Homo sapiens: one gene and its partners. The protein of the gene in region 1 interacts with the protein of each later gene in a pairwise test. Each region holds a gene or a part of one and is shown in the gene's direction. Other genes may lie near its edges.

Region 1 (5,848 bases):
CATATTGATTATGGCCATGTTGAGTGGGCTGTTGGCAATTTGGGTTTGATGGTCAGGGCAAGAATGAGAAAGGTGATAAAGTCATCACAGTAAATGCTTGTCTGAAGAGAGAGTAAAGAGGTAAAGGAGAGATGAGACAAAAACTTCAGGGGAGTACAAGTGGTAGGAGTGTTTAGTGAATTATCAGAGAGGCAGAATGAAAAGAATAGTATGTCATAAAAGGTGACTTTATAGAAGGAAGAAGAAGGAGGTAACAAACTGACATGCCGCAGACAGTTGAAGAGGGATACAGAGTGAGAAAAGGTGCTTGGATTTGATGGCTAGGAGGTTATTCGTGGCATTGTGTAAGCGGCTTTAGTATGGTGGTTGAGTAAGAAGATAAATTTATAAGGAATTAGTGGGTGAGAAAGAAGCGGAGGTCGAAAGTATAAATGATTCTTTTGCAAATTTAACCTGAGGATAAGCAGTAGGATAGGCAGATGATTGTTATTACGGTAAGGGCACAGAACTTATTTGGAGACCAAGCATAGGAAAGACACAAAAGAACAGATATTTAAGATCCTCAGGAGACAATATGATCATAAGCAGTATATGGACGTTAAGCATTGGTAAGGAGGCAGGGCACTTATTTCTGCAAAAGCAAAAGGTAAGAAGGGTGAAGACAGAAAGGTTTTTAGGTGGAGTGAAAACTCACATTGGATAATTGCCTGTTTCTTTTCAATAATATGAGATTATTTAGGAGTGAAAAAGGCTGGAGTTAGGGGCCAAAAAAACTAGAAAAGATTAAAAACAGTTCTAAAGAATACAAAAATCAACTGAAGATTAATAAAACGCTTTTGCAGCAGTGGTGAGGGCCTATTTTATTTACTAAAAATATCTAGAGCATGCTTCCATAATGTTCTTTTTTTTTTTTTTTTTTTTTTTTTGAGACGGAGTCTTGCTCTGTTGCCAGGCTGGAGTGTAGTGACGCGATCTCGACTCGCTGCAACCTCTGCCTCCTGGGTTCAAGCGATTCTCCTGCCTCAGCCTCCTGAGTAGCTGGGACTACAGGCACACACCACCATACTCAGCTAATTTTTTTGGTATTTTTAGTAGAGATGGAGTTTCACCATGTTGGCCAGGATGGTCTCGATCTTCTGATCTCGTGATCTGCCCACCTCTGCCTCCCAAAGTGCTGGGATTACAGGTGTGAGCCACTGTGCCTGGGAGTATCCATGAATAGATTTTAATTGTTTCATGAGGGCGGAACCCTTATGACCCAGTCACCTCTTAAAGGCCCCACCTTTATACTGCCACATTGGGGATTTTCAAAATGAGTTTTGGAAGGGACAGATATTCAAACCATAGCACCGTCCTACAATTGCATGATTGAATTTGTGTAATATCCCTGTCCTGTCATCCCTTTTCCCGCCTCCATTTTTTATGGCATTGCTCCTGTTAGATTATTAATTACTTGAGGCAATAACTGTCATTTTCATTTTTGATTTTCCATAGGACCTTAAACATAGCATATATTGAATACAATAGATCTGGACAGGAGAGAGCAGAGATTAGAATATTGGAAATCTGTGGAGGTGGCTAGGAGTTAAGAGTTTTTGTAATATAGGTAAATAAATTGAATCCCAGGTCCAAAAGTTCTAAAAGTTGGGGAGGTTATAAAAAGTAATCTTGGAAGGGTGGAAGGCTGGTAATGGAAAATGCAGACTCTGCAAGTTACTTGACTTCTCTTTGTTTTCACTTCCTTGTCTATAGAGTTTAATAAAACATGCTTGAAATGGACAGTAATACTCAGTAAATGTTAGCTATTAGTTTTCACTATTATCAATGGAAAAAAAAGTCACTTCTTATATTTAACATGGGAAAGGAAACCTATTTTAAACTCTGAAGTGTAATTGTTACTGCCTGGAAGTAGGGGCATTACAGGCATAAATAAGAGTGCTCAGGTCTTTCTTAAGATTTTTATGAGTAATGATGTCAATATTTTAATAATCATAATATCTAATACACTGAATCTACTGTTTTAGTCACTATGCTTTTAGTGTACTCTCATTTAATTAACTTTTATAAGGTGGATACTAGTAATCCTATATTTCATGAGAGGAAATTGAGGCTCATATAGATTAAGTATTTTATGCAAGATCATGTAGCTAAACTGTGGCAGGGTCTAGATTTTAACCAAGGTCTAACTCCAGACTCTGAATTTTTAATCAAGTTAATTTGATGATTGCATTTAAAGGAAATAACAGTAACCAAGAATTTTACTAAAAATTAATGGACTCTAATAGCTTACAGGATTTTTTGGGGGTCAGAAATCAAGGACCCTATGATAAGTATTATCCATGAACGGCCGTAAGAGGGCACCACTGCAACACTTCTGTGACAGTGCTGGAGGCCTCTGTTGCTGTAGTGCCTCATATACTAAATAATGTAAAGCTTGTACCTTTCTGCCTAATCCTGGATATATTTTAAATAGAAAAAGGGTCCATTTGAAAAGTTGAGATCAGCTAACTGCTAATTTTTTATAAAATCGAATGAGCATTGGTATTTATCATTTCAAGCAGGAGCTCTGTGGTATATAAATTAGGAAATCCTTATATTTTGTCTTGACTAGGAGAAATGGCTCTGAGATTGGGTGACTTGAGATGGAAAACATTGTAAAATGAAAATAAAATCAGGCATAGTTACAGGAAGAAAAAAGTAAGAGCCATGAGGTTGTTACTGGTTTAGGTTACAGTTTTGAGACTTGTGCTTTTCTGTGTTAGCTATGCATATAGAATAAAGAAAAGTATTTCATTGTTATAGATTTTTGAACAGGAGGAACAATAGAAATAGCTAAAACATGTATGTCTACTGTGTGTACTAGGTACTGTTCTGTTTGCTTTATAGAATTTAACTCATTTAATCATTACAACAACTTGTGTAAGATAGGTCCTGTTATTATCCTTGTTTTACACATGGGGAAACTAAGACATAGTTTAAATAACTTATTCAGTCATATGGGTAGGAAGTGGCAGAGCCAGAATTTGAGCCTAGGCATTCTGGATCCAGACTCTATGCCCTTAATCCCAGTAAGGGATTGCCTCCCTTCATTATCAAATCTTTCAAGTTCTTTTGAATAAACATATGATAAAATTGATTTCCCTTTATTCAGGAGAGGTTATGGCATGTTTGTGGCTATGCCAGACTAGAATCACAGGAGCTATAAGTTCTCATCTCACATTTGCCAATAATTTGCTGAAATTACTTAATTTCCCTGTTTTAGACTTTGAATATTTATAATTAATAAGAACTTGAGTATAAGAAGAAAAATGTAAAATTCAGATTAAAAATCTTCTAGAAATACCTTCTCTTGCTGAAGTAAAATTTCATTGTTAATGGATTGGGTTACCAAGATCATTCTGTCAATACAGTTTTTATTAAAATGGATAATAGGAATTTTCCCTAACTCTTGTTAATTACTTGGAACCTACAGAAATCAATTAAAACGACCTGAAAACTTGAGAAGCATAGTTTATTTAAAAAATGATATTATGAGTTTGCTTCCTTCCAGCTGGGATTTCTCTTAAAATGCCAGGGAGAAAGGGTCTGGAGGTCAGGCTTTCTTTTAAAAGCACCAAGCCTCTAATTCCATTGTTAGTCTTCGTGGTGACTAGCCGCCATCCTGATTCATCTCATCTCATAGCATAAACTCCTATGTGATCCCATCAGCCTATGAATAAAGACACTCCTATTATCAGGGAATTCTAAGGATGTAGAGTCTCCCTCCCAGCAACCAGGGACGGAGGCCAGTTAGATTCTTTTTATTTAATAGGACCATAGGCATTTCAAATGATTTCCTTGTCTATTTTAAACATTTGTGTATAAATTCCATGATATCACCCTATGCTTTAATCATAACAAATATCTTTTTTCCTCTAGGAGTCTGGAGCACCTATTCTTACAGATGATGTTAGTTTACAAGTGTTTATGGATCACTTGAAGAAACTTGCTGTGTCCAGTGCTGCTTGAAGTGCTAATAATGTTAAAGACACTTAAGAAGATGAAATAATATTCAAATTTCATTTTTTCCTTTTTCCATTTATCTGTGGAAACCAACAGATATTGCTCTATATTTTTTGTATTAGTATGGTTTGAGACAACATATGGAAAATGTTCACATTTGTAGATTAAGCTGGAATTATAATGAGAGCAATAAGAACAAATTTATTTTGCTTACCACAGTGTTATAGCTGGTTCTAGAAATTTGAAGTCTTTATAACTTAATTATGTTTAATAAAAAATAGAGTCTGCCTCGTACTACAGATGTAACTCATTTGTATATTGCAGACAGACCCAAAGTGGCACTGAATTTTCTTGCTCACCTTTTAAAAACTTGTTCCTTAATTTTAGCCAGAAAGCAAAAAAACAATAGTAATGATAAATGTGAACATTTTTGCTTATTCATTGAATATTTTTCTGTAATTTTCAGCACTTATGTATACACTTTTTCTGTACTTACTAGGTTAAGGCAGATTTATTTTTATGATTTGTTTAGGAATTATTTGATTTTATAATGGTAATTTTCATGATGATAATGTTTTTGGTTATTTGGAAAGATAGTTTAGAGATGAAAGGTTTTTTTGGGTAACAATCCCGCAGCTGACAAAAAATGTGAAATTTCCACAAAATATCCAACTTATGTGACTAAACGCAGTAGTTTTTTTAAAAGGGGAGATAGAAAATAAATGGTTTTGTTGGAGTGCATTTTAGTAAGCCTTTGCAGTAAAATGACGGTTGTAACTACTAAACCAAATTTAGTTTTCACAGCATGGTTTTGTTGTTTTCCCCTTGTTTTTCAGAGGTAAATTTTGCATTATATCCTTCAGTATTTTAACACTATTTTGGCAGTTTACACATTACTTTTTGTTTTTCCTTCCTTTTTGTGAAATGTATTAAGTTGTGGTTCTTATTGAAACAGTATTATATAATGTTTGCTTAATTATATCATGTGATGCTCAGTTCTATTTTGATTTATTCATTAGTATTCACTTTTACCTTTAAAGTTTACTTGTAGCAAATATGTTTACATTGATAAAGCCAGATATGTTTTGACAATGAAATTTACATATCAAGTACTGCAAATAAAAGGTGGTGCTATGATATATGCTTAGGAGGACAGTTTTAATGATTGTACTTGCATGAACACAATCATATGATGGTAAAGCAGAAACTTAAGAAAAAATTGTTTATGTGTTATATTCAATTAGCTTAAATAAGTTGCTTTGTTATATTTTATTTGAATTGAACTACGCTAGGCCTAAATGCCAATAAAATATACTTTTCACTGTTTTTCTGGCTATTTTGAAATCTAGTAAAACCTGAGAAGCCTAATGTAAAATTAGAGTATTTAAAATCATTAGATTTAAAAGCTACTCATTTAAAAAATAACAACTTTAAGATATAATTCACACATCATACACTTCACCCACTTAAAGTGCACAATTTAATAGTTTTGAGTATTTTCGTGAAGTTATGTATGTAACCACATCACCACAATCAATTTTAGAGTATTTTTTATCACTCCCAATAGTTACTCATTTTTGTTGTAAGGCTAGTGTGTTTTTAAAAAGGGAGATAGAAGTTCATGTAGTTTTTTGTTGTTGTTGTTGTTTGAGACAGAGTCTTGTTCTGTTGCCCAGGCTGGAGTGCAGTGGCACAGTCTCAGCTCACTGCAACCTCCACCTTCTGGGTTCAAGCGATTCTCCTACCTCAGCCTCCCAAGTAGCTGGGATTATAGGCGCCTGCCACCACACCTGGCTAAGTTTTGTATTTTTAGTAGAGATAGGGTTTCACCGTATTGGCCAGGCTG
Region 2 (7,031 bases), on another chromosome or scaffold:
ACTTAGTCTATATAAAAACATATTTTAATGTTTCTTAATTTCTTTACTTTTTTTTTTTTTTTTTCTTGAGACGGAGTTTCACTCTTGCTGCCCAGGCCGGAGTGCAATGGTGCAATCTTGGCTGACAGCAACCTCTGCCTCCCGGGTTCAAGTGATTCTCCTGACTCAGCCTCCCTGGCAGCGGGATTACAGGCATGTGCCACTGTGCCCGGCTAATTTTGTATTTTTAGAAAAGATGGGGTTTCTCCATGTTGGTCAGGCTGGTCTCGAACTCCCGACCTCAGGTGATCTGCCTGCCTTGGCCTCCCAAAGTGCTGAGATTACAGGCACGAGCCACCACGCCCAGCCTCTTTTCTACTTTTTTAAGAGTGGGGTCTCCCTCTGTTGCCCAGGCTGGAGTGTAGTAGTGCAATCATGGCTCACTGCTGTGTCAACCTCCTGAGCTCAAGCAATCCTCCCACCTCAGCCTCCTGATAGCTGGGACTACTGGTGTGCACCACCATGCCTGGATGGTTTTTTCTAAATTTTTTTTACAGAGATAGGGTCTTGCTATGTTGCCCAGGCTGGTCTTGAACTCCTGGCCTCAAGCGATCCTCCTGCCTTGGCCTCCCAAAGTGCTGGGATTATAGGCATGAGCCATTGCGCCCAGCCTATTTCTATGTCTCTTTACTGGTTTATTGTGTCTCTGGTCTAGATTGAAGGAAGAAGTTTATCCATCTCTTCCACCCAGAACTTGGTGCTCTGTAGGGGAGCTCAACTGGGAGCGGGGAGGTGGGTGGCTGTTGTCATTGTTTCTTCTTTTTCTTTCTTTCTTTCTTTTTTTTTTTTTTTGAGACAGAATCTCACTCTGTCACTCAGGCTGGAGTGCAGTGGCATGATCTCAGCTCACTGCAACCTCCACCTCCTGAGTTCAAGTGATTCACCTGCCTCAGCCTCACAAGTAGCTGGGATTACAGGCAGGCACCACCACGCCCGGCTAGTTTTTGTATTTTTGGTAGAGACGGGGTTTCACCACGTTGGTTGCCCAGGCTGATCTCGAACTCCCAAACTCAGGCGACCTGCCAGCCTCAGCCTCCCAAAGTGCTGGGATTACAGACGTGAGCCACCACCCCCGGCCCATTGTTTCTTCTATGTGTGAGTCCAAACTCCAGAGAAAGATGTGTGTGTGTGTGTGTGTGTGTGTGTGTTTGTGTTTGTGTGAGGTCTGGGGGCTTCCCCCCAAGATGGATTTGCCTGTACTTGACTTTGAAAGGAAAGGGAAACAGACAGATGCCTTAGACATCTGAGTAGGAGAGACAAGACCTGGCTACCCCTTGTCATGTTCCTGGTGTTAGCGGTAGCCATGCACAACCTGTATTCTATCTCTGGGTGTCCAGACCCACCAGGTAAGGCCCTGGCCAGGCTGGGGCTGGGGCCCAGGTGTGGTCAAGATCCAGGGTACAGAATCCCCATCATGGGGCAGCTGAGGCAGAGACCAGGGCTTGAGGGATGGAGGGAGGAGGGAATGGCTGGGCTCTGACTTGCCTTTCCCCTGGAAGGGACCATGGAGGAGGAGGAGGAGGATGATGACTATGAGAACTCAACACCTCCCTACAAGGACCTTCCTCCCAAGCCAGGTAAGAGGACTTTTTGGAGTGTGACCTGGGGGAATACAGGGAACGGGGTCTCCAGTGGGCATTGGTTGGGCATTGTAGACACACAGTCAGTCTCCTCTCTACACAGCCCATGCCGGGCACTGTGGAACCCACACCCTGCCCAGGAGGACCTGTCAGTCTGATGGCAGAGGCAGGATTGGGCACAGTCTTGGTGAGCAGGGTGAGAGAGGAGGGGTCAGGAGATTGGCAAAATCCTTGGGGGACTGAGGGCTCAAATAGAGGAAGGGACTTTGGGGTGAGACTTGAGGGATGAGTAGACATTTCTTAAGAAGAGAAGTCCAGGAGAGAACTGTTAGGTGCAAAGTCCCTGAGTTACAAAAGCTGGTGCTTGAGAAACTGGGAGTGGACTGTGGGCTCCCAATCTCCTCACCTTTCTACCCAAAGCCCAGGTTTTATTTAGACTTGGATCACAAACCCAAGGCATGGTACAGGGTCCAACAGGAGACTGATAAGTGGTTGTTAAAGTGGAGGTTTGGGCCAGCTGCAGTGGTGTGCATCTGTAGTCTTGATACTTTGGGAGGCCGAGGTGGGAGGATCGCTTGAGGACAGGAGTTTGAGACCAGCCGGGGCAACATAGCAAGACCCCATCTCTGCCAAAAAAAAAAAAAAAACAAGTAGAGGTTTGGACCGTTTGTGGTGGCACATGTCTGTAGTCCCAGCTACTTGGGAGGCTGAGTCAGGAGGATCGCTTGAGCCCAGGAGTTCTGGGCTATTGTGAAGTATGTGATTGGGCATCTGCACTAAGTTTGGCATCAATATGGTGATGTTTTGGGAGCAGGGACCACCAGGTTGCCTAAGGTGTCTGAGGAGGGGTTTCCAGGTTGGAAACAGAGCCACTCGACACCCCCGAGCTGATCAGTAGTGCGACTGCTCCTGTGAGTAGCCGCTGCACTCCAGCTTGGGCAGCATAGCGCGACCCCACTTCTAAAAAAATAGAGAAAATGAAACCGGAGGTTTTTGAGGTATTCCTGAGTTTACTGCCACCAGGGACCCTGAGGCCATGAGAGATCCTGGGGGCCCAAAACAGAAAATCCCTGAGATATGCTGATGGCCTGGTCCTGGTGACCTTAGACAGGGGCCATTCTATGAGGGCTGAGGCTGTATATCCCCCATCTCTGAGTCCAGAGTGGGGCCACCTGGGAGGTCCAGAAATATGGTGGGACTTGCCTGAGGTAGGAGGTGACCTGTGCTGTGTTGTTTCACTGCCCCATTTCCAATTTATGGTCCTAATGTGACCCTCAAGCCCTGGGTCTACATATATGACCAACCAATCCCATTCCCTTCTTCAGGGCCACGTCTGCTCCAAAAGCACAGTCCTGTCCCCACATCCACATGCAGCCCAGCATCCACTCTCCAATCCAACTTCATCACCCTCTCTACTATAGCCCAGCCTCGACTCCTTCCCCCTTCCCAAACCTGGCAAGGACTCTGTTCTTCATCCTAACCACATCATGACCTTACCCACATCCATCCCTGTCCCCAACCCATTTTCCATCCCATCCCACCCCATCCCAACACCAATTCTAATCCAAACCTCACCTCATCTTCATCCCCATCCTGAAACGCAACTGTTTTTGTTTTTTAAAATCCCCTCCATCCCCTTCCATCCCTTCCCCTTTCAATCAAACCCTCAAAGAGACACACAGAGAAGAGAACTGTGAATTGTCTGCTCATTAGTTTTTATGAGAGGAAACCAGAGAATTTAAAAAAAATATTTTTGAGACAGGGTCTTGCTTGTCACCCAGGCTGCCCTGAAGTGGTGCAATCATAGCTCACTGCAGCCTTGAGCTCTTGGGTCCAAGCAATCCTCCTACTACACCCTCCCGAGTAGCTGGGGTTACAGGCATGAGTCACTGTCTGTAAAGCCTCACATGTGAAGCTCAGGGTCTACATATATGACTCATATGACTCTCAGGGCCTGTAAGTTCTGCAGAGATGACTGTGGTAGTCAGCCTTCAAGATGGGTTCCCTGTGACCTTTACGTTCTCATATTCGTGCCCTTGTGTAGTCTCTTCCCACAACGACTCAGAGCTGGTCCATGTGATAAATAGAATACTGTATAGTGGAGACCATCCTTTGTGACTTGTGAGGCTAGATCATAGGAGCATGGTGGCTTCTATCTTTGCCTCTGCCATGTTGTGAAGATGCCCAGTCATCCCTTTGGAGAGGCTCACATGGCAAGGAACTGAGGCCTCCCACCAACAGCCATGTGAGTGCATCATCTTGGAAGCAGATCCTCTAGCCCCAGTCAAGCCTGCAGATGACTTGCAGTCCCAGGCAACATCTTGACTACAATCACGCAAGAGATCTCAAGCTAGAACTACCCAGCTAAGCTGCTCTCAGATTCCTGAACCACAGAAACTGTGAGATAATAAATGCTTATGGTTGTTTTAAGTCACTGCGTTTTGGGGTAATTGGTTGTGCAGCCATAGATAACTGACCCAGTGCCCTGGTACTTCACCATGGAATGTGGGGGAATACTTAACACCTATCCCCTTAACATCTTGTTACAAATGTTACCACTTCCAGGAGGCACTTCCTGATGACCTCGCTACATTAGCTTTTATCCTATCCCTATTGCTCTGTTTTATTAGGTTTAGAGCAGTAATACTTAGTCTATATAAAAACATATTTTAATGTTTCTTAATTTCTTTACTTTTTTTTTTTTTTTTCTTGAGACGGAGTTTCACTCTTGCTGCCCAGGCCGGAGTGCAATGGTGCAATCTTGGCTGACAGCAACCTCTGCCTCCCGGGTTCAAGTGATTCTCCTGACTCAGTCTCCCTGGCAGCGGGATTACAGGCATGTGCCACCGTGCCCGGCTAATTTTGTATTTTTAGAAAAGATGGGGTTCCTCCATGTTGCTCAGGCTGGTCTCGAACTCCCGACCTCAGGTGATCTGCCTGCCTCAGCCTCCCAAAGTGCTGAGATTACAGGCGTGAGCCACCATGCCCAGCCTCTTTTCTTTTTTCTTTAAGAGTGGGGTCTCCTTCTGTTGCCCAGGCTGGAGTGTGGTAGTGCAATCATGGCTCACTGCTGTGTCAACCTCCTGAGCTCAAGCAATCCTCCCACCTCAGTCTCCCGATAGCTGGGACTACAGGTGTGCACCACCATGCCTGGATGGTTTTTTCTAATTTTTTTTTTTTTTTTACAGAGATAGGGTCTTGCTATGTTGCCCAGGCTGGTCTTGAACTCCTGGCCTCAAGCGATCCTCCTGCCTTGGCCTCCCAAAGTGCTGGGATTATAGGCATGAGCCACTGCGCCCAGCCTATTTCTGCGTCTCTTTACTGGTTTATTGTCTCTCTGGTCTAGATTGCAGGAAGAAGTTTATCCATCTCTTCCACCCAGGACTTGGTGCTCTGTAGGGGAGCTCAACTGGGAGAGGGGAGGGGTGTGGCTGTTGTCATAGTTTCTTCTTTTTCCTTTTCTTCTTTTTTTTTTTTTGAGACAGAGTTTTGCTCTGTCGCCCAGGCTGGAGTGCAGTGGCGCGATCTCGGCTCACTGCAAGCTCCGCCTCCCAGGTTCACGCCATTCTCCTGCCTCAGCCTCCTGAGTAGCTGGGACCACAGGCGCCCGCCACCACGCCTGGCTAATTTTTTGTATTTTTAGTAGAGACAGGGTTTCACCATGTTAGCCAGGATAGTCTCGATCTCCTGACCTTGTGATCTGACTGCCTCAGTCTCCCAAAGTGCTGGGATTACAGGCGTGAGCCACCGCGCCTGGCCCTTTTTTTTGAGACAGAATCTCACTGTGTTGCCCAGGCTGGAGTGCAGTGGCGCTATCTCGGCTCACTGCAATGGGGGCTATTGTCATTGTTTCTCCTTCCTCTTTTTTTTTTTTTTTGAGACAGAATCTCACTCTGTCACTCAGGTTGGAGTGCAGTGGTGCGATCTCAGCTCACTGCAACCTCCACCTCCTGAGTTCAAGTGATTCACCTGCCTCAGCCTCACAAGTAGCTGGGATTACAGGCTTGCACCATCATGCCTGGCTAGTTTTTGTATTTTTGTTAGAGACGGGGTTTCGCCATGTTGGTTGCCCAGGCTGATCTCGAACTCCCAAACTCAGGCAACCTGCCAGCCTCAGCCTCCCAAAGTGCTGGGATTACAGATGTGAGCCACCACTCCCGGCCCATTGTTTCTTCCGTGTGTGAATCCAAACTCCGGAGAAAAATGTGTGTGTGTGTGTGTGTGTGTGTGTGTGTGTGTGTTTGTGTGAGGTCCAGGGGCTTCCCCCCAAGATGGATTTGCCTGTACTTGACTTTGAAAGGAAAGGGAAACAGACAGATGCCTTAGACATCTGAGTAGGAGGGACAAGACCTGGCTACCACTTGTCATGTTCCTGGTGTTAGCTGTAGCCATGCACAACATGTATACTATCGCTGGGTGTCCAGACCCACCAGGTAAGGCCCTGGCCAGGCTGGGGCTGGGGCCCAGGTGTGGTCAAGATCCAGGGTACAGAATCCCCATCATGGGGCAGCTGAGGCAGAGACCAGGGCTTGAGGGATGGAGGGAGGAGGGAATGGCTGGGCTCTGACTTGCCTTTCCCCTGGAAGGGACCATGGAGGAGGAGGAGGAGGATGATGACTATGAGAACTCAACACCTCCCTACAAGGACCTTCCTCCCAAGCCAGGTAAGAGGACTTTTTGGAGTGTGACCTGGGGGAATACAGGGAACAGGGTTTCCAGGAGGCATTGGCTGGGCATTGTAGACACACAGTCAGTCTCCTCTGTATCCAGCCCATGCCAGGCACTGTGCAACACACACCCTGCCCAGGAGGACCTGTCAGTCTGATGGCAGAGGCGGGTTTGGACACAGCCTTGGTGAGCAGGGTTGAGAGAGGAAGGGTCAGGAGATTGGCAAAATCCTTGGGGGACTGAGAGCTCAATTAGAGGAAGGGACTTTGGAGTGGGACTTGAGGGATGAGTAGACATTTCTTTCTTTTTTTCTTTTTTTTTGAGATGGAATTTCACTCTGTCACCCAGGCTGGAGTTCAGTGGCACAATCTCCGCTCACTGCAACCTCGCCTCCTGGGTTCAAGCAATTCTTTTGCCTCAGCCTCCCGATTAGCTGGGATTGCAGGCGCCTGCTACCATGCCTGGTTAACTTTTGTATTTTTAGTAGAGACCAGGGTTTCACCATATTGGCCAGGATGGTCTCAAACTCCTGGCCTCAAGTGATCCGCCTGCCTTGGCATCCCAAAGTGCTGGGATTACAGGTGTGAGCCACCACGCCTGGCCGAGCAGACATTTCTTAAGTAGAGAAGCACAGGAGAGAATTGTTGGCTGCAAAGTCCCCGAGTCATAAAAGCTGGTGCTTGAGAAACTGGGAGTGGCCTGTGGGCTCCTCAATCTCCTCTCATTACCACTCAAAGCCCAGGG
Region 3 (7,031 bases), on another chromosome or scaffold:
AAAACATTGTTATTGCCATTCAGGGCCTCTGAGTTTTAATAATTTAATAATTTAATTTAGTAATGAAATTAAGATATGGTTTGGTTTGCTTTCTATTACAGCATACTTGAACTAACACCTTGTTTTTCCTGGTGTATTATCTGATGACTGAGTGTAGGAACAATGTCATTAATGTGTGTTTCCTCTACTGCATAATTTCCACCCATGGAAGAGTCTCCATTAAGAGGACCTGCTACAAATGTGGAAGCTCAGAGACCTCGAAATGAAGTCATCTGTATCTGTTGGCCTGCTGGGTTAATTCTGTATGTGCTGGTGAAACTGGAGAAGTCTGCGTGCTTCTGACAATTGATGGTGGAATTCTACGAATTAAAGCGTTTTAGCAGGAAATGATTATGAAGGACCTGATCACTGTCTGTGTTTCCATAATGTGATAAGATTAGAGTAATGGGTGAAATGAGGAGCAATCAGGAAACATCTTTGTTCTTTTTCAACAGCTCTGAACAGCAACATGGGGTGCAAAGTCCTGCTCAACATTGGGCAGCAGATGCTGCGGCGGAAGGTGGTGGACTGTAGCCGGGAGGAGACGCGGCTGTCTCGCTGCCTGAACACTTTTGATCTGGTGGCCCTCGGGGTGGGCAGCACACTGGGTGCTGGTGTCTACGTCCTGGCTGGAGCTGTGGCCCGTGAGAATGCAGGCCCTGCCATTGTCATCTCCTTCCTGATCGCTGCGCTGGCCTCAGTGCTGGCTGGCCTGTGCTATGGCGAGTTTGGTGCTCGGGTCCCCAAGACGGGCTCAGCTTACCTCTACAGCTATGTCACCGTTGGAGAGCTCTGGGCCTTCATCACCGGCTGGAACTTAATCCTCTCCTACATCATCGGTAGGTCCCAGGGGTCCGGAGCTCGTGCCCTCTACCACTTTTCTGTTTGTTCCCACCTCCAAAGTGTGGGTGGATGCCCCACAGGGAGGTCATTCTTGTTAACACGAGAGGCACAGAATTAATAGGATGTTTCTGATTCATTTAGAGGTATTTAGTTTCTTTTAGTAGGTTTTTAAATTACTAGAGTAAATGCATCACTGATAGAGAAAAATTGGGAAAATAAAGAAAAGCATGAAGAAGAAAGTAGAAATACCCTGCCTGACAACATGGAGAAACTAATTCTCTCATTCATTCATTCATTCTTTTAATAAATGTTCATTGAGTACCTGCTCTGGGCTGGGCATTGTGCTAGATACTAGGGATCCCATGAAGGCATAAGACACTCTGTGTTCAGAAGTTTACTGTCTACAGATACAACTATGGTTAACATTTTTGTGAATTTAAATGTGTATTTTTCTACAGTGTATCTCTTTATAAAACAATATATAGTAAACATTTCTCATATCATTAGCTATTTTTCCACAGTAACATTTCTAATGCTTGCCTACCATTGTATAGATTTATATACACAGCGTAATGTATTGGTGTCTTTATGGGATGTTCAGATTGTTTCCATTATGTTGTTGCTGTTGTTATTAACAGTTAATTACTTTATGTCTTTGGGCTTAGCCATGATTCTTTTCCTTAAAACTGTCTAAGGAGCAGAATGGCTGTCAGTGGGTCTGCGTGTTTTTAAGGCCTTTGTTGACTGTGATCCTCCACGTAGCCAGGGGCCCCTTTCCCTGCAGTGTGGGCACTGGGCATCGGCCTGTAACACATCCACCCAGCAAATAAGGAAGCAAATGTAGAAAATCTTTCCGGTTTGCCAGGTAAACACGCTTTGCTTCTCTTTATGCTTTTTTGTATTTTGATTACAACTGAAGTTGAACACATCAACTTAAAAGAAACAAAAACCTAAGTCTCAGAAGCAAAGGGTACAAACGGCCACTCAACATGCCATTTATTTTTTTTTTTCTCAAACTTTTTGGTAATAGCGAAAAAACAGTAAGACCTGTTAAGTTGAGCCATGTGGGTTCCGCCTTGCTTCTGTGTCAGCTCCCACTGGACCCCACCACACCCTCCCTGGCCACACATGCTGCCTGCTGGGATCCTCGCAGCCCTGGGCTCCCCACAGCCCTATCTCTGCATGGGGGGCATCACTCCCCCTTCACCAGGACAGCTGGGGGAGGGCACACACTCACATTCTCCGAGCAGCACCTTCTCTTTCTTTCCAGCAGCTGCAGTATCTGCTGAGAGCCAACATAGCTTAGTCTTCTGGGTTCTAAAATAAAATTCACAATGTTTTCTTTCAATGCCACATCAAAACTTAACAACCACACATGGTTCTCACAAGCTGAAGTCTCTCACTGGGAATGTAGCTATTGTAAATGGACCGTTATGTTTCCAGAGGATTTACCTGAGCATAAAATATACATTGAGCATGAAATGCTTGCAGCTTCTAGACCAACAAATGTAAGGCTCTGCGAGAGTGCCGTTTGCTTGTGTGAAACCATTTGCATGCATTATAAAAATGTGTTCTCAGCCTTAGCTGCTGGGAAGGGCAGTTTTTCCAGCAAACATTTTTTTAAAAGGCATAATTCAGAAATTGGGAGTGGATAGGCTGGGAAGAAAGGCTGGGGTAGCCCCTGTCACTGAGCAGGACAGGGTTTGGGAGCCACGTTTGCCATAAGCCAGCTGCTTTGGGGGTGACAGGGAGATGGTGAGACCATTTTTACAGAATTCATAATAGATTGGCTGCTTAGGAGGAAGAAATGTGGTTAAACTTCTGAGTTGTTGGAAAGATACTTACTTATCATAAGACCAAATAGTGAAATTGAATCTCTGCAGATCACTGTGGCAATATGCTGTGGATAATTAGGACCATGGTCACCGACAAGGCCCGCTTTGAAAATAAAGGAAAACGCTCTATGAAAATGCTGGAATTTTAGTGACATTTCCTGAGAAACACCAATGGAAACACATTCTGACACCCTTTAGAATTATGTGAGAGGAGAGAATGAGAGTGAAAGACAGCAGCCAACTATTGTTGGCATTTTGAGTGCTGCCCTGTTGGTGTTCTTCGGCACCGGAGGGTGCAGGCTGAGGGGAGAACGAGGAGGGCTGGGGTCTGTCTGCTGTCCTGCACTCTGGGGATGCTGTGGCCTCCGAATCAGGTTCAGGCAAAAAGTGGCAGAGGTGGCTGATGCCAACACTGAGATGAGCAAGTGGCTTTGTCCCTGAGATGGAGTTCAGCCCCTTCAAGGACTTCCTAGGGCCCCTCTTCTTGCTGAGAGAAGAATTATGGTGCAGGCACCATCATCTCTGCAGCCAAGGGGTTCCTAGAAAAGAGGCTTCCTAAGCAGCATTCCTCCAGACTGCCAGCTGCACCCCAGGAGTGCATTATGAAATCAATTTTTCATGAGTTGTCATCAATGTTTACTTTTTTTAATGAAACAAAGTAGGTAGCATTAAATATTATCAGAGTGCCTCTCAGGTGGTAAGGGTAACACTCGTTTTGCGAACTTTTTATTCGGATATATATATTTGATAGAATACACCTGTGTATATTGGGTAGGATGTGAAGTGCATTCCTCTGTAGGCCCTAGAAGCCTTCTCGCACTTAGCACTAGTCGACCGTCACTTCTGGCTCAGCATACACTGTGGTCTGGCTGCTGCTGCCAGATTCCAGTGCACCGTCGGTGACTCCTGCAATGATGTTATCAACATGGAGCTCCACTACAAATACCTGGCTAACAGTTGTCCTCACATCTCCTCTGTTGTGTGTGCTTTGTGGCAGGTACTTCAAGCGTAGCGAGGGCCTGGAGCGCCACCTTCGACGAGCTGATAGGCAGACCCATCGGGGAGTTCTCACGGACACACATGACTCTGAACGCCCCCGGCGTGCTGGCTGAAAACCCCGACATATTCGCAGTGATCATAATTCTCATCTTGACAGGTAAAGCCCACACTTAAAAAGAGATCGGGTCAGAGTGATGGGCAAAGGTTTGGTGAGAGGCTCCTGTTAAGTTCCTTTCTTTACTTATCTCTTTAACCATAACCCCCATTTCTTTTTGTTTTGTTTTTGTACTGCATGCAGGCATCTTTATTTGTTCCTGTCTTCATTGCTTCTTATAGATTCAGATAGGGCCGGCCTGCTTCATAGCTGTTGAATTGTGTGCCATTTCATTAAAAGAGAATCTTAGGTGTTTAGCCTAGCTGTTTGTGGAATAAGATTTTGTCTGCACTGCAGGCTTTTTGTGTGAGTGTCCTGGGAATAAAAGTTCTTTTGACTCAGTGGATGACCATTTGGAAAGCAAAACTGTCATTCATCAGCCAGGAAAATGTGGAGGAATGAGCTCCGTCTGGAACACTAATGTGTGCCTGGGGCGTCTGAAGATGACTTGGATGGTTTTTACACCTAACAACCATCAAAACACCCTTTCAGTAAATAAGTTTCATGACAGAGTTGTGGTTACAGAATTTGAAAAATCCCAGAGACTGCCTGAACACAGCTGATGGCAACTTCTTGCTAGTGACATTTGTGCGTGTCTTGGCCAGTGCAGCGCGAGTTTTGCTCTGTGGGGCTCCATAAACATGAAGCTGAAATGCAGATAAATTCTCATTTGGGGTTAGAAAATCTTGGATGAGTTTTAAAAATGACATGCCTTATTTTACACACCACATAATTGAAATAACTTCACTCAGGCTGGTCTCAGCAGTATTTCTGGTCCAGCTGGCAGAAACATGCATCAGAAAGTAAGTCTGCACTAGTGAGATTTCATTTTAATAAACCTGAGAGGGAGGGACACTAAAGAAACAATATATTGTTGTTTGTTGAGGTGTTCTCCCTGTGATTAATTACACAATTCTCTTCTAACATCTGTACTTTATAATTCAATCTCAAAAGTACAGCAGTTTTTATTTTATTTTATTTTATTTTATATTTGAGACAGAGTCTTGTTCTGTCACCCAGGCTGGAGTGCAGTTGCGCGATCTTGGCTCACTGCAACCTCTGCCTCCTGGGTTCAAGCGATTCTCACACCTCAGCCTCCCCAGTAGCTGCGATTACAGACACGCACCACCACACCCAGTTAATCTTTTATATTTTTAGTAGAGGTAAGGTTTTGCCATATTGGCCAGGCTGGTCTGGAACTCCTGACCTCAAAAGATCTGCCTGCTTCCCAAAGTATTGGGATTACAGGCGTGAGCGACCGCACCTAGCCAATTTTTATTTTAAAACGATGAGAGGCGTCCATGGCAGAGCAGTGGTCTCAAATCCTGGCTGTGTTCGAGTGGTACCAACCCCTTCTGTGCCACTTTTCTTGCCCAGCAGAGAGTTCAGCTATGGAAGTACCCGAATGACCTCTTCACCCTAAGGTGGTGCTGGGGCATGTGCCTCAAAGGCAGTGCTGTCAGAGGTTCCTGGGCATCTTTATTACTTATAGTTTTCTTTAAAAAAAAAACGTGAGTTTGCAAGCTAGAGCTAGCCTAGCTCAGATGTTATTTTATATGCACTGAGTCCAACGAAGAACCATGTGTGTTAGTGGTTCCAGAACCATAGCTAGTTGTTATTGTTAATATCACTAACATCCCAAAGTCAACCAGAATAATTTCCTCTTCTGAAAAATGTCCATTCTCCCAGGAAACTATGCAAAGTCTTTCTTCCTGGAATTGTTCCTAGAGGTTGTTTCCCAGCAACGCATCCTTTTAGTGAGAGGGAGCGGCTTGGTGTGCGGGTCCAGGCTTTCCCCTCCCTATGAGAGGGGCTCATGCTCCAGATCTCTGCAGTTCTCGGGTGCCCCTTGGGTGGGCTTCTCAGTTCCCAAGGGTATCTGGAGGTCACCTAGGAGGGCCTGGGAAGCACCCACAACCTTGGTGATTTAAACCCCTGATCCCCGCCCCCAGAAAGATAATTAATCCACCCCATTCCCAGAGGCTCACAGAGGTCTGCAGAGGCTCGATGCACTTGGATTCTTTTTCAGTCGCCTTCTTATCCCCATCCAGGAAGGACCTTCCCAGTTTGTGGTTAACACTCAGACAAAGTTTTGTGTCTATGCACTTTTTCAGGACTTTTAACTCTTGGTGTGAAAGAGTCGGCCATGGTCAACAAAATATTCACTTGTATTAACGTCCTGGTCCTGGGCTTCATAATGGTGTCAGGATTTGTGAAAGGATCGGTTAAAAACTGGCAGCTCACGGAGGAGGATTTTGGGAACACATCAGGCCGTCTCTGTTTGAACAAGTGAGTTGCTGCTTCTGACCATTTTTCTTAGTTGACATTTAATGACATAGATTGTATGGGGGATATAACTGGCTAGGATGGCATGTGCTTTTAAGAAAACATTATTTGAGGATATTTTGTTAATTGTTTTGTGTTTTTGCAGTGAAGTAGCTGAGGGTATTTTGTATGTATCAAGTTTGTGTGAAGGTTTATTCCCCTGAAATGGAAAGACTATTGTATGACAAGAAAGACTGAGGAAAAGAAAATCATCACCCTAATTCCAAATTGTGTATCATTCAGGATTCTTGTCAGACTCATTAAATGATCCCTCTTTCCCCAGATTCTGTTTGATGGCCAACTTTGGAATTTTGTGTTCAGAAAAGATTTTTCTCTGCAGTGCCGTGGTGACCTCACTTCACCTTTAAATACCTTCCTATTAGATTAATAATGTAGAGGGAAGAGAAATAGGTGAAACTATTTTTGAAGGTTTTCAGAATGACTGAAGTGTCAGAATGTGAGCACAATAGTCTTTCGCCGACATTTGACTTGTGCTGCTCAAGCCCTGGCGACAGTGGCCCCATCACCCTCATGTCTCTGACACAGACATCCGGAACTGGAGGTGACAGCTCCACCCTGTGCCATCTCAGGTCTCTCGCCCAGCCCTCATTGAAAGCTCAGATAACCTAGGAAAAAAAAGCCAAACAGTCATATCTTTTTTATCTTTGTTGTCAGATCTCCATGTAATTCTTTAGGTCTCAGGATGGACAATGGGGACTTGGATTTTGTGTGTGATTCTTCATTAAGACTGAAGGTTGAAACTGCTATGATAAAGAGACCCCCTCCAACTGCCACAATGGAGTGTGGCTTTAAAGAAGAGATGTTTCCAGTCCTGA

Evidence for each region. Proteins that work in one complex are often made in the same cells at the same time.
Region 2: the proteins of SEC23A (region 1) and CLEC17A interact in binary tests that used the Homo sapiens proteins (3 or more experiments, as listed by UniProt).
Region 3: the proteins of SEC23A (region 1) and SLC7A1 interact in binary tests that used the Homo sapiens proteins (3 or more experiments, as listed by UniProt).

What each region holds. Positions count from the first base shown.
Region 1 is NC_000014.9:39,031,399-39,037,246, reverse strand, and holds the end of SEC23A (protein transport protein Sec23A), read left to right. Parts: intron 1-3,918; coding exon 3,919-4,008; 3' UTR 4,009-5,328; downstream 5,329-5,848.
Region 2 is NC_000019.10:14,586,076-14,593,106, forward strand, and holds part of CLEC17A (C-type lectin domain family 17, member A), read left to right. Parts: intron 1-1,538; coding exon 1,539-1,616; intron 1,617-3,663; exon of another isoform or gene 3,664-4,018; intron 4,019-6,205; coding exon 6,206-6,283; intron 6,284-7,031. UniProt on the Homo sapiens protein: Cell surface receptor which may be involved in carbohydrate-mediated communication between cells in the germinal center. Binds glycans with terminal alpha-linked mannose or fucose residues.
Region 3 is NC_000013.11:29,529,666-29,536,696, reverse strand, and holds part of SLC7A1 (high affinity cationic amino acid transporter 1), read left to right. Parts: intron 1-494; 5' UTR 495-508; coding exon 509-878; intron 879-3,714; coding exon 3,715-3,873; intron 3,874-5,984; coding exon 5,985-6,159; intron 6,160-7,031. UniProt on the Homo sapiens protein: High-affinity, low capacity permease involved in the transport of the cationic amino acids (arginine, lysine and ornithine) in non-hepatic tissues.